Linked DNA regions of Homo sapiens. The gene in region 2 interacts genetically with the main gene of each other region. Each region holds a gene or a part of one and is shown on either strand. Other genes may lie near its edges.

Region 1 (2,866 bases), on a different chromosome or scaffold from region 2:
AGGTTTGCATCCAGCCCTGAGACATGTAGGAAACACCTTTCAGACCCAGGCTCTGAAGATTCCCAGAAGCCACAAGGATTGAAGGGAAAAGGTGATCCTGGTAACTGTTCCAGGATTGCTCCAGGTTTGAGATGGTATTGCTAAATTTAAAATTAAACAAGAAACCCAACAACAGCTTTTAAAGTGTCTTCTATCTCATTGTATTTTTTTTAACTTGCCCCAATGATAGAAAAGTCTTTTGCTGAAATGATTTTGATGATTTTTGTTTATCGTTTATAAAAAGGAAAAGAAATATACAAACTTTGACTTTTGTGACTTTGTGAAGGTTTCTTTAAGATGTGCATTCCTTTCTGCTTGCTCTCTAGTAAATGTTTTACTACCGGGACCTGTGGATCGTTTGTCATTTCTGTCTATGAATTGGTACATATTAAGAATAGTGCCGCACACAGTGTAGGGACAGATAGGGAAGTGCTTATTAAAACTGTCAGAAAAGACAACTCTTCCATTATCCTGGTTTTATTCAGGAATAGGATGGGGGTGGGGAGGGCTTAAGTGGCCCACACGTCCAGGTGTAGACTGACTACATTGAGTATCGCTCCAACACCGAACTTCCCTTTAACGGTTTAAAAAAAGGGTCATGAGTGTCAACACAGTTCAGCAGTGTTTTCATGGGAGACCTTCAGGCAGGCAGGAGGACATCCTCCTCTCTGCTCAGGACCACCACGGGAGTTCTAGGCACTCCACCTCACTGTTCTTCAGACAGCTGTGATGTGAGCAGGGGCTAGGCCGGTAATCAAGGGGGCCAGACTGAGCCATGCCACACCCTTCCTCCTAGTCCCCATGCTCTCCTGGGAGCCTGGCAGCTCTGCTTACTTCCGTTTGTGTTTTTTCTTTTGTTCCTTACGTTGCTGTGCTCTTTGGTCCTTCTTCATCCTTGAGTCCACCACCTTGAAATGACCTCTGACTCCAGCTGGCCGGCGCACTTTGCGGCCCACACCTTTTTTGGCTACAACGTAGGTGACATGGCGTTTCTCCTTGCCAAGCCCAGCCTTCTTGTAGAGACTACAGGGGGGAAGAGAAGAGGTTAGAGGCTTGCTTTCTGCTGCACTTTTAGCCCTGTGTACCTTTGTGGTGTCCTCCCATTACCTTCGCAGCTGTGCCACTTTCTCTCGTTCTGAGATGTCCACTGTGTTCACCACGGCTTCTGCCTTCTTCCTGGTCTGCTCCAGCCTCTTCAGCATCTGCAAAGGAACCTGTCAGGTGACCTCTTCCCCATCCCCCCACCCCCACCCCACCCAATCTCTGGAGGCCCCATCACTTACCCTCCTTTTCTTTCTAGCCTTAGCCTCAGCCACCTTCTTGATGGGACGTGCATTGATTTCCCGCCAGCGTTTCCGGTAATGCTCCACCTCCTTCTTACCAACAGGCAACTGTCGTATCCGGTGCTGCTTTTCCTCTTGCACAAACCACTCCGGAAGCTCCCCCTCATCCTCATTAAATGTGTACCTGAGTGGAAAGGACATCTGTCTAATATCCAACATTCCAGGCTTTCTAAAGAAATTACCAGACTGGGCACGGTGGCTCACGCCTGTAATCCCTGCACTTTGGGAGGCTGAGGTGGGCAGATCACCTGAGGTCAGGAGTTTGACCAGCCTGGCCAACATGGTGAAACCCCATCTCTACTAAAAATACAAAAATTAGCTGGGCGTGGTGGTTGGCACCTGTAATCCCAGCTACTCAGAAGGCTGACTCAAGCGATTCAAGGAGAATCAGGCTGCAGTGAGCCAAGATCGTGCCATTGCACTCCAGCCTGGGCAACAGAGCGAGACTCCATCTCAAAAACAAAAAATTACCCATTTACCCACCAGACCCTGGGTCACTCTTGATGAGTTTATGGCCCCTTTACCGGTTGAAGGAGTTATCTATGAGGTCTCTCTTGGCCTTTTTGGAAGAGGCAATAACAGCACCTAGAGCAAGGCCTTCGGGGTCCAGTATCCGATGTTTCGCTAGAGAGGGAAGGAGAAAGGTCAAAGCTCAATTCCCAATACTGAGACTTCCAGTGGTCTTTTCTCATTCCACTGCATACAGAGCTCTCACCTGGGTCCTCAATAGGCACTATCTCAAACCCGTCATCATCTGACTTAGGCCCACGGCTTCGCTTCTTACCACGGAGGGGTTCCCAGCTGTGAAGAGGGGAGGACTCTGAGTGATTCCACCACTCTGTACTACTCAGACCGCACTCCCACGGAATTTGCAAAAATCCTGCCATGCAGGCTGTACCCCAGACCAGTTAAATCAGGATCGTCAGTACAGTATTTTTAACCCTCCCCATGTGCAGCCAAGATTAAGAACCCCCAATTTAGAGAAATGGTTCAAGCCACCGCTTCCTTTCCATCCCTTCTCTCAGCTGCAACTACTCACCTCTCTTCTTCCTCACTGCTAGTACTGCTATCACTGTCTGAGATGCCATCCTTTTCTTCCCCTTCAAGGCCAGTGGCAGCTTCTGTCCCCGAAGAAGCCTCTGTTCCCTTAGGGGCTTCATCTTGGTACAGGGGAGACATTATCTCAGTCTTCAAACAGGAAGGGGGTGTCTGTGGCAGCTGCTGCTTCTGCTGCTGCTGCCGTCCCTTCCGCCGGTTCTCAAATAACAGCTGGGCCTGACTGATCTCCAGGGCCTCATCGGCATCGTCCTCGATCCCAGCAAAGCTGCCCTGTGATAGGAGAACATCAGCTGCCCTTCTCCCAAGGAAGACTCATCTCCCCGCAGTCTTGCCCCCGGCCTCTCCTTACCTTTGAGAACCACAGGTTGGCTTGTTCTTCCTGCAGTACTGCCTTTTCCTCCAGTGGTACCAGCAGTGGATTCTCC
Region 2 (4,024 bases):
CACTGCCCTTTAGCCTGGGAGACAGCAAGATCCTGTCTCTAAAACAAACAAACAACAACAAAAAAAACCACAGATCTATATGACATCCAATCTTTCTGATACCAGTATCATTACTTTTATCAAAAGATAATTTTTTAATAAAACTCTGCAAGCACATAAGAAAAAATGTTCCACCACTGATGACAATTTGAGCTGATCCACAGCTCAAACTCTCTTGCTGCCTTTGAACAGTGGGTAGTAGGACTAGTACAACAAACTCTAGTCAGCACATATGCCAAGTATCCAGAATTAGGAAATAAGGAGATAATGGGGTATCCTTGGCCAAAAGTATCCAAAAAATAAGAAGAGACAGAAAGGAGCAGTGGCTCATGCCTGTAATCCCAGCATTTTGGGAGGCCAAGGTGGATGGATCACCTGAGGTCAGGAGTTTGAGACCAGCCTGACCAACATGGTGAAACCCCATCTCTACTAAAAATACTAAAATTAGCTGGGCGTGGTGGCGGGCACATGTAATCCCAGCTACTTGGGAGGCTGAGGCAGGAGAATTGCATGAACCTGGGAGGCAGAGGTTGCAATGAGCTGAGATCATGCCATTGCACTCCAGCTTGGGCGACAGAGCAAGACTCCGCCTCAAAAAAAAAGACCAACACAATATCAGAAGCTACAGAATCAGTGCCAGTCTGAATACAGATTACAGAGCAAAGTGTCTTTAAAATATACTACCAAGTGCCATATTTTTATTTTGGAAAATAAAAAAAGGAAATGGTTGGACATTTTTGTAATGAAAGGCACATTCCCTTTAAATTTTTCTTCTTGCAAAAGTCTTTGTTCAGAGATGAGACTAATGTGCCTTCTATTTCCACAAGTTTTTCATTCATTCACTCAGTACCTACAATACCCTAGTGCTTGCTGTGAGTGTCCTCCTAGAAAAGAATGTCAAACTTCCTGGCAAAACTGGGGAAGACTCCAAAACTTGGAGTTCTGAACACATGAATTCAATTCTTGAAGAAATGAATTTTGAAATTTGAGTAAGGGCCAACCAGGTGGAGACAAAGTCACTCCAAAAAGATTGAGGAGCTCCTGCAAAGACAGGGTCTGAAAAGAATGCAAGGTTTAAAAATAAAACAAATGTCAGTGGATGGAGCATAGCTCGGGTGGAGAAGAGTATGGGCAAATAAGGTCTAATGGTTCCCAACTTTATGGGGAACCCGCTCTTCAAGGGGCTGCTTGGAAATAAATGGGATCATATTGGATTGTTAAAAAGAAGTTAGAGTTTGCCATTGCCATTTAGTGCTGAGGGACCAGGTAAAATAAACATCCTACAATGTACAGGACAATCCCACACAGTGAAGAGTTGTCTGTAAAAATGCCAGTAGAGCTCCCTTTGAGAAATACTGGGAAGTAGGTAAGGAATTAACAAAGTCTAGAGAATTTAACTCTAGGGCCTCAGCGTATCCTTTAAAATCTGTGATCACAATCTCCATTTCACTCACTAAATATTTACTAGGTGCTAAAAGATAAACCAAGGCACATTAAAATTTTAAAGGATTTATTTGAGGTCAGGCAAAGTAATCCTAGCACTTCGGGAGGACAAGGCAGGTGGATTGCCTGAGCTCAGGAATTCAAGACCAGCCTGGGCAAATGGTGAGATCCCGCCTCTACAAAAAAATACAAAAATTAGCCTGGCATAGTGGTGCATGCCTGTAGTCCCAGCTACTTGGGAGGCTGAGGTGGGAGGATAGCTGGAGCCCAGGAAATTGAGGCTGCAGTGAGCCATAACTGCACTACTGCCCTCCAGCCTGGGCGACACAACAAGATACTGTCTCAAAAAACAAAAACAAGAAAATGTTTATTTAAGCAGACAATGGTTAACCCATTTATGCTGGAGGTTGCAAATTTTTTTTGTGAAAAATCAGACCTTGGCGATGACCATGAGCAGGATATAAATAACTCCCACAAGCTTAGCGTTCCAATAATGGAACACTAGGCATATTAATGAATTGGTCAGCTCCAGAATGCAAGCAATATGGGGCTGCACCAAAAGGACACAGTTAGAAGGCTTTTGAAGAGTGAACGGCAGAAGCAAGGCCAAGAAAATCTGTGATTGGTCAAAGTGGAGTAGCCTTACTTGGATCATTCCAGTAAAAGTCAGTGGTTAGAGGTTAGTTGATGGTTTCTGATTGGTTAAGCTAAAGTTTCATTTTCCTAGAATACAACCATTTACACTGAGTTTGGTGTAAGTCTGTTTATGTAGGAACCCAGGGCACTGGAGCTTCCTCAGGCAATGGCCTCCCAATTAATTATTTTAACACAGGAAGCTGTTTTTGCTGGGCAATAAATATGTTTCCTTCTTTCCTTTGACCACCATGAAGCTTGGAACTTTGTGGCCTACCTTTAATAACTGTACAACAGGCCGGGCGCAGTGGCTCACGCCTGTAATCCCAGCACTTTGGGAGGCCGAGGCGGGCGGATCACGAGGTCAGGAGATCGAGACCATCTTGGCTAACACGGTGAAACCCCGTCTCTACTAAAAATACAAAAAAAAAAAAAAATTAGCCGGGCAAGGTGGCGGGCGCCTGTACTCCCAGCTACTCGGGAGGCTGAGGCAGGAGAATGGCGTGAACTCGGGGGCCGGAGCCTGCAGTGAGCCGAGATCACGCCACTGCACTCCAGCCTGGGCGACAGAGTGAGACTCCATCTCAAAAAAAAAAAAAGATAAAATAAATAAATAAATAAATAACTCTACAACATTCACAGTATATTTTCAGTATAACTCACCCTAATCACATCTTTCTATTCAAGCTTCATATTTTTATGATCTTGATTCTCTTTATTTTGTATGTTATTATATATTATATAGTTTAAGCTACCTCAAATACTTTTGGAACAAAATTGAGTTTAAATTTAAAACTCTAAGCTACAAAAGTACAATAAAAAACAAAAAAGAAAAAGAAAACTAGATAGTAAGATGGGAAGAAAAAAATATTACACTGAGCCCCCAAATCATCCTGAGAGGTCTGAGACACTTTTTTTTTTTGAGAGGGGGGTCTCACTATGTCACCCAGGTTGGAGGGCAGTGATACCATCTCAGCTGACTGCAACCTCCACCTGCCAGGCTCAAGCAATCCTCCCGCCTCAGCCTCTTGAGTAGCTGGGACCACATGTGTGCACCACCATGCACAGCTAATTTTTTGTATTTTTTGTAGAGACAGGGTTTTGCAATGTTGCCAAGGCTGGTCTCAAACTCCTCAGCTCAGGCAATTTGCCTGCCTCAGCCTCCCAAAGTGCTGAATCACAGGCATGAACCACTGTACCCAGCCTTGGTTTAAGAGACTTTCAAAAAGAAGTATAATACAGTCTTTGCCTTCAATAGTTTGTAACCAAATATTTTTTTATTTTTCAGAATACACATTCTTCTCAAAGTAATCAAATTTTTAAGTAAAGATTCACATTGAAAAGAACATCAGAGAATAATGGATAACAAAAAACAGTGATAAATTGTACAACCACTGTTTAAAGAATTAGTATGGATTAAAATAATTAAAATTGCATATATTACTATGTATTAAGAACTAGTAACAAATCCTCAGAGCAACTTTTTGAGGTAAATTACTAGGATTTTCTTTATTTTATAGATAAGGAAATTGAGACAGAGAGGGTAACTTGTCCAAGGTAACACAGCTGTTAAGTGTAGTAATTTGACCTAAGGAAGTCTGGAACCAGAGCCTGGGCCCTACAGTAGTTAGATTTCAGTTAATCCTTGAATTATAGGAGGATATAGAAAGAAAGAAATAGAAGGGATGGGGCAGTGGCAGTGAACCTTGGAACAGATTGAAATGAGGTAGACCAGTAAAGAACCTGAATGGAGAGTATAGATTGAGGGATATTGAGAATCTGGGGACAGGGTGCAGGAAGTTTACAGTCTTAAAACTCAAAGGAAGCTTGGAGACATAGCTCTCGCCTTTAGTCCTCACTACTCAGGAGGCTGAGGCAGGAGGGCTGCTTGAGCCAGGAGTCACGGCTG

Evidence for each region. Genes that interact genetically often act in the same process or in processes that back each other up.
Region 1: of ATG10 (region 2) and FTSJ3, changing one suppresses a phenotype caused by changing the other (phenotypic suppression), as found in Homo sapiens cells (one large-scale study listed by BioGRID).

What each region holds. Positions count from the first base shown.
Region 1 is NC_000017.11:63,818,933-63,821,798, forward strand, and holds the end of FTSJ3 (pre-rRNA 2'-O-ribose RNA methyltransferase FTSJ3), read right to left. Parts: coding exon 2,791-2,866; intron 2,712-2,790; coding exon 2,422-2,711; intron 2,184-2,421; coding exon 2,098-2,183; intron 2,007-2,097; coding exon 1,907-2,006; intron 1,507-1,906; coding exon 1,323-1,506; intron 1,242-1,322; coding exon 1,147-1,241; intron 1,063-1,146; coding exon 870-1,062; 3' UTR 501-869; downstream 1-500.
Region 2 is NC_000005.10:81,974,696-81,978,719, reverse strand, and holds part of ATG10 (ubiquitin-like-conjugating enzyme ATG10), read right to left. Parts: intron 2,528-4,024; exon of another isoform or gene 2,393-2,527; intron 392-2,392; exon of another isoform or gene 1-391. UniProt on the Homo sapiens protein: E2-like enzyme involved in autophagy. Acts as an E2-like enzyme that catalyzes the conjugation of ATG12 to ATG5. ATG12 conjugation to ATG5 is required for autophagy. Likely serves as an ATG5-recognition molecule. Not involved in ATG12 conjugation to ATG3.